Regions from separate parts of the Homo sapiens genome. Here region 2 is linked to region 1. Evidence: fine-mapped expression QTL. A gene starts in region 1. The other region holds a variant in brackets. All regions are shown on one strand. Distances are between the middles of the regions.

The links. PIP is the estimated chance that this variant, and not a neighbour inherited with it, causes the effect.
Region 2: its variant is fine-mapped to the expression of KIF26B in thyroid (GTEx, PIP above 0.99).

The regions. Positions count from the first base shown.
Region 1 is chr1:245,153,369-245,156,274 of GRCh38, reverse strand. It overlaps KIF26B (kinesin family member 26B), which reads right to left and starts at 1,290. Exons shown (of 15, transcript NM_018012.4): 1 at 788-1,290. The coding sequence starts at 850. RefSeq lists a silencer at 1,749-1,948 and enhancers at 1,803-2,478, 2,479-2,906.
Region 2 is chr1:245,297,688-245,300,593 of GRCh38, reverse strand. The region is part of intron 2 of KIF26B (kinesin family member 26B); the gene reads right to left. Among named protein-coding and RNA genes, the nearest start is that of KIF26B-AS1, 65 kb to the right of the region's middle. The variant G/A (reference allele first, on the strand shown) is at 1,648.

The DNA of each region.
Region 1 (2,906 bases):
GAAGACACGCCGGTGTCAGGGGCTGCAAGGCGGCGGGCTGCAGCGCCCAGGAGCTGGGTCATACGTGCGCCACCAAGTACCCGCTCGAACCGCCCACGGGAGTCGGTTGGGGACCTCTCCAAGCCCTGCGGCCAAATTGCCCTCCGTCTGTCTCGTTAATTGTCCTTAAGTGAGTCCCCACCGCCCAGGTGACCCCTGCGCTGGTCCCCGGTGGCCTCCTCCTGGGGTCAGGAAGGGGACTCGCTCGGGGCCGTTTCCACGGCTTCTGCAAGGCGGGGGGGATCCATAGGTTCAGCGCCCCACGCTTTTGAAGCCGGCACCTATCCCAGCAAGATCCCGGGAACAAAATCCTGGAAGACCCTATGGGGGGGGTAGGGGGAGGGCTGTGATTTCAGGATTTTTATTCATACGGGGTCCAACTCTCCGGATCCTGCAGGTAAACGAGAGGCTCTCACGGCTCCAGCTAAACGATCCGAGGTACTGCCCAGCATTCATGGGAAACCCTCCCCTTCGGCTTCACTCTGCCTAGAAGTGCAGGAATGCGGCAAAAGTTACGGGTGCGTGGAAAGGAAGGAACGAGAGGGCTGAAAAAATTCCGAGAGCGAGGCGAGCGTGCGGGCGTCCCCGCGGCCGACCCGCCTCCGCGCACTCACAACCCCGCCAGCCCCGGGGGCGCCTCTGCAGCGGGGGAGAGCTCGGGGCCGGGGCCGCACGATCCCGGGGAAAGGGGGACCTCCGCCGAGATGGGTCTGGTAACGCGTCTCCGCGTCGTACCGTCACAACTTACCCCGTATTTCTTGCCCCTGGTGGAGACCGCAAGCCTCTCTTTATTCCCAGCTACCGAATTCATGGTGGCTTTTCCAGAGGAGAGTATCTAAAGGTTCCACCGACGCTACATCCAGAAGGTCCTCCAACCCAGAAGCGTCCCCCGGCTGCAGGGGGCTGGCTCTCAGCCCTCAGGGCAAGGTTTCTTCAGCGGTGGGGTGGGAGGGAATGAAAGCAAATGGATCCCACAAGTAATAGCACCAATTTGCAGAAAGGGTTGGGGTCGCTGGTTTATTCTTCTCTTCAAAGCATGCTTTTCCTCGTCCCCTTCTGCCTCTTCCAGCCGCACGTCCTCTTGTCACGGCCACATCCACAGAACTGGCATTTTCTTCAGCCAAGTCAGTCCGTGCTCCCCCACGAGGAAAGCGAGGGATACAATCAGGGCTCGCGGCCGCTGCCGGGAAGGTGGGAGAGCCGAGCCGAGTCAGCTGTGGGAACTTGTCTCCTTCACCGAGCTTGGTAACTGAGTTCAAAGAAATTCTCCCAAAATATAAAGATCCAGACTCGGGGAGGAGCCTCGGCGTGTCGCCGAGCCAATATCCGCCGGCCCGTTTCGCCTGACAGTTGCGCGAGGGCCGGGAGAGGGGCGGCTCCGCGTGGCCCGGGAGCGGTCGGCGGTCACAGCGCGCGTGTGCGCCCGGGCGCAGCGCGGAGGAGCCTCGGGAACCTGCCGCCCTCGCCGCGCCGGCCGGGATCCATTTTATGTGGCGGCGCTCGTGCCTGACATTGCGAGGCCTGGAGCCGGGCTGGGGCTGGGGGCGGGGGATCGTCGATCTCGCCGCGTGCGGGGAAGTTCCTGGCGCGCGGCCCGGGCCCGGGGCTCTAATGAAACGCCGCTGCGCGAGCCTGGAGCCCGGGGGCCGCGCGAGCGAGCGTGGCTGGACGGAAATGCGGTGCCCCAGCCTCCCCCGCCCCCAAGTTCTTTCTCTTCCTGACAAGGCTTGCAGGTCTGTCTGTGAAACGCCGTGCAAAAGGGATTGAGTCACAAACAAGTCCACAAACATGCCGGGTCCTCCCCCCGCCCTTTGTTCTCGGAGAGCTGCCGGGCAAACCTTTTCTGGAATTGCCCTACCGACCCCGGGCCGGCCGGGGGGCCACCCTCCCCGACCGCAGCCGCAGGACTAGGGCCCTTGGTCCCCCGCCCGCCCGAGCCCCGGTCTGTGATGGACTAAGCCGCCCGGGGCTGGGACAGGTGAGCCTGGTGACCCAGCGGGCCGCTGCCGGGCAGGGGAAACTGAGGGCTTCGCCGCGCTGCACGCGGACGACTCTGGCCTGGAGAGGGGGTGTGGCGCGAGCTGGCCTTGGCCTCTCCTTGCGTGGGATCGGGCCCCTCGCCCCCCGCCGCCCGTTTCTTCCTGCGCCTGGGCCCCGCGGGGTCTCCGGAGCACCCCGTCATCGCTCCCTCTCCGATCGCCCCCCGCCCCAGTCCCCCGGCGCAGCGCCCAGGAGCGCAGGAAGCCGGCGTATGCCAGGCTCCACACGTGGCTGCTCTGGGGTGTCATTTTTCATTTCACGGGAGGACATTTCTTCTGGTGAGCCAGCAGGTCTGTTTTGTTGTGACCTTTAATTAACACCCCGCGAGACGCCTCTGGAAGGACTGGCCGGGCGCAGGGATCACGTGGGGTGTAACGGCATCTCCGCGCCCGCGGGGAGACCCAGCCCGGGGGTGGGCGAGGGCGCGAAGGACGTTCAGGGCTTTCTGGTCGCTGACTTCCTTCTGAGCTGTGGACGACGCAGGAGGGGGCAAGAAGACAAAGGTTCGGGGTTCTGGAAGCCTGGGGCCACGCCCCCACTCTGCCTTCCTCGGGGACAATTTCTTCTGTGCCTCCCGTGCTCTGCCCCACTCCTCCCCGCTCCAGCTCCTGCGCGGGAATATTTCACAGCCACCAAAGCGAGGTAAAAAGGTCAAAAGGAAGATGGCAAGAACAGAGTGGACGTTTCCGTTACGTTCCCACTTCCAATTTAAAAGCGATCCTATCAATAGGGGACCTTAGGGGGCAGGTACACCTCCAGGCAGCACGCGCCAGCTCCCACCCGCATCTGTATTTCGCGTAGGTGCCGCGAAACACATCATCGCCATT
Region 2 (2,906 bases), 140 kb before region 1:
TCGTGCCACCGTACTATAGCCTGGGCAACAGAGCAAGACTCTGCCTCAAAAAAAAAAAAGAAAAAAGAAAAAAAATAATTCATTTGTGCCTCTATCAATGAAGGGATGATGATTGTGTTTTAAGAGGAACTTGAACCAAAGACAGAAAACCCTTTTTAAAAAGGAGAGGTAGAAGTAATGAGTTGGCTTGACCTGGGACTCCACACCAAGTCCAAGAATTCTACTGGGTCCAATCCCCAGAGTAGAACGAAGCAGCCCAGCCAGACTCTGGCCGGGCAGCCACTTTCATGCACTGCCTGGCTGTCTATTTATATAAACACACAGGTGAAGAAATCTTAATAAAATGAACTTGCATTGAGCAAATCAATAGACTGTAATTCCCCACAAGAAGAAACTGCTATCTTTGGAGGTTCCACTCAACAAATAGTTGCTGTTAGGTCACGATCTGGGCCAAGTACTAGAAATAGAAAGATGATAAGATAAACTTATCCATACCAGGATTTCAGCTAGGCAGCAGGACACTGTGTTTTCACCAAAACGACTAGAAGTCTCTTCACAGAAGGACATTTTGCAATGTCTGCTATCCTCAGTTTCCCTGCTGGAACAATGGGAACCCAGTTCAAGACATCAACAGAGATGTTCCCAGGAAGCTCTCAGCCTCTCCTCGCAATCTCTGACTCACTTTGCCAGCCTATTAAATGGGTCGTCTGCAGACCTTAGTCATGAGAGTTACTACAGTACAAGGAGACTTATTTAGTAAATGGCCTGGTAAGTTGCTTAAAATGGTGGCTATTGCTGATATTATTTACTCGAATGGGATTTTGTTTTCCAGCTGGTACAGCAGAACGGTAGAAAGCATTCTGGATGTGGACCCCGCAGATAAGCTCTCCAGATCCAGCTCTGACCAATGTTAGCTGGGCAACCTTGGACATGCCCCCTAACTTCTCTGAGCCTCCGTTTCCTCATGAGATGGGGACACCTGCTGAACTCTGTCTCAGGACTGTTGTAAGAACTGAAAGAAGTTTTTTATGCAAAAGTAATATGAAAATTCTAAAACATTTTGCAAACTACTTAATTTTCATTACAATCTTCCTAATAATGTTTTTCTTACATTAGATATAAAATTAATTTGCCTTTCCTATGAAAATACCATCTGATAGTAGAAGGTCAGCTGGGTGAGGAAAAGCTGGCACGACATCAGAAATTATCCTTTATCCTTTTACAACCCATCATGTGGGCGACCCAAACTCAAAAAAAAAAAAAAAAAAAAAAACCCAGAATTGGATGTAAATGCAGTGTGACAGCCTTTCATTTGATCACACTTATTGGAAAAAGGATTTCATTTTCTGCACTAGACTCTGGGCAGCAAATAGGGCTGAAGGTAGTAAAGGCTGGCACCAACGCAATAATAATAAGGAACAGAATAAAAACAATGCGCCTGTTCAAACTGAGCTCTGGGAATGAGCGTTAAGCTAAAAGGCAGGCGGGAGGCAGCGAGCTGGGTTAGGAACACAAACAGGTTTAGTAATCAATCCAAAATCACAGTTGTGAAAACCACATAAAATGCCATCTGGCCTCCTGGATCGTGTAGAACATTAAGCAAAGGCAGCCTTCCAAGACACATGTTCTCATTTCTCTGAGAACAGC[G/A]CTTCTCCTTACCCAATCAACTGTGAAAGAGTCACCCAGATCCTGGTCCAGTGTTTCCGCCTTTGCCAGAATTGTTCGGAATGCTAGCGAAACAGCTCGCGGATCATGGGCAGCGGAGGCTGTTCATCCCTGATGTTTTCTGGATTTGGAGAGCTAATTGGTGACATGTGGGGTCTCTCCTGCTTTCCACACACTGCTATGACCACTGCCATCTTCCTCCTGCCTTAAAGACATATCTAAGCATAGCTTGTCAGCTATTCTGAAAACTAATTTTCTGTGTGGTATATGTAACATGAGAGTTATCAATTTAACCATTTTTAGGTGTACTATTCAAGAGCATGAAGTACATTAATGCAGTGGTTCATACATTGTTTTGCAACCATCACCAATCGCCATGCCCAGAACTTTTTCACTTTCCCAAACTGAAACTCGGCACCCATTCTCCCTCCCTCTAGCTGCTGGCAACCTCTATTCTACTTTCTTTCTCTATGATTTTGCCTGTCACATGAGCAAAACCATACAATGTTTGTGCTTTTGTGTTTAGCTTATTTCACTTGGCATAATGTCTTCAAGGTTCATGTTACCGCTATAGCACGTATCTTTCATTCTTTCTCCACGCTGAAGAATATGCCATTGTATGCATAGACCACATTTTGTTTATCTCTTCATCCATCAATGGACTCTAGAAACTAATATTTGTATAGTATGAGCCTACTCGTAGTGAATGAAGGTAAAATTTCCTTATGAGTTAGAACATTAGGGCTGGGCGCGGTGGCTCATGCCTGTCATCCCAGCACTTTGGGAGGCTGAGGCAGGCAGATCACCTGAGGTCAGGAGTTTGAGACCAGCCTGGCCAACATGGTGAGAGCCCGTCTCTACTAAAAATACAAAAATCAGCTGGGTGTGGTGGTGGGAGCCTGTAATCCCAGCTACTTTGGAGGCTGAGGCAGGAGAATCACTTGAACCTGGGAGGTGGAGGTTGCAGTGAGCCAACATCACACCACTGCACTCCAGCCTGGGCAACAGAGCAAGACTCTGTCTCAAAAACAAACAAACAAACAAACAAACAAAAACTGATGCCCATCAGGCATCAGTCTTTCAGATTCACAAGCACACACAACATCTGCCACCATGGTGTCCCATCTCCAAGCCACGAGGCTATGGGTTCAGGGAGGACAGAAACCATGTCCTCATTTGACCCTAGTCCCACTCCCATCAACTAGCACAGTACAGAGTAAACCCATAAATGTTTGATAAAG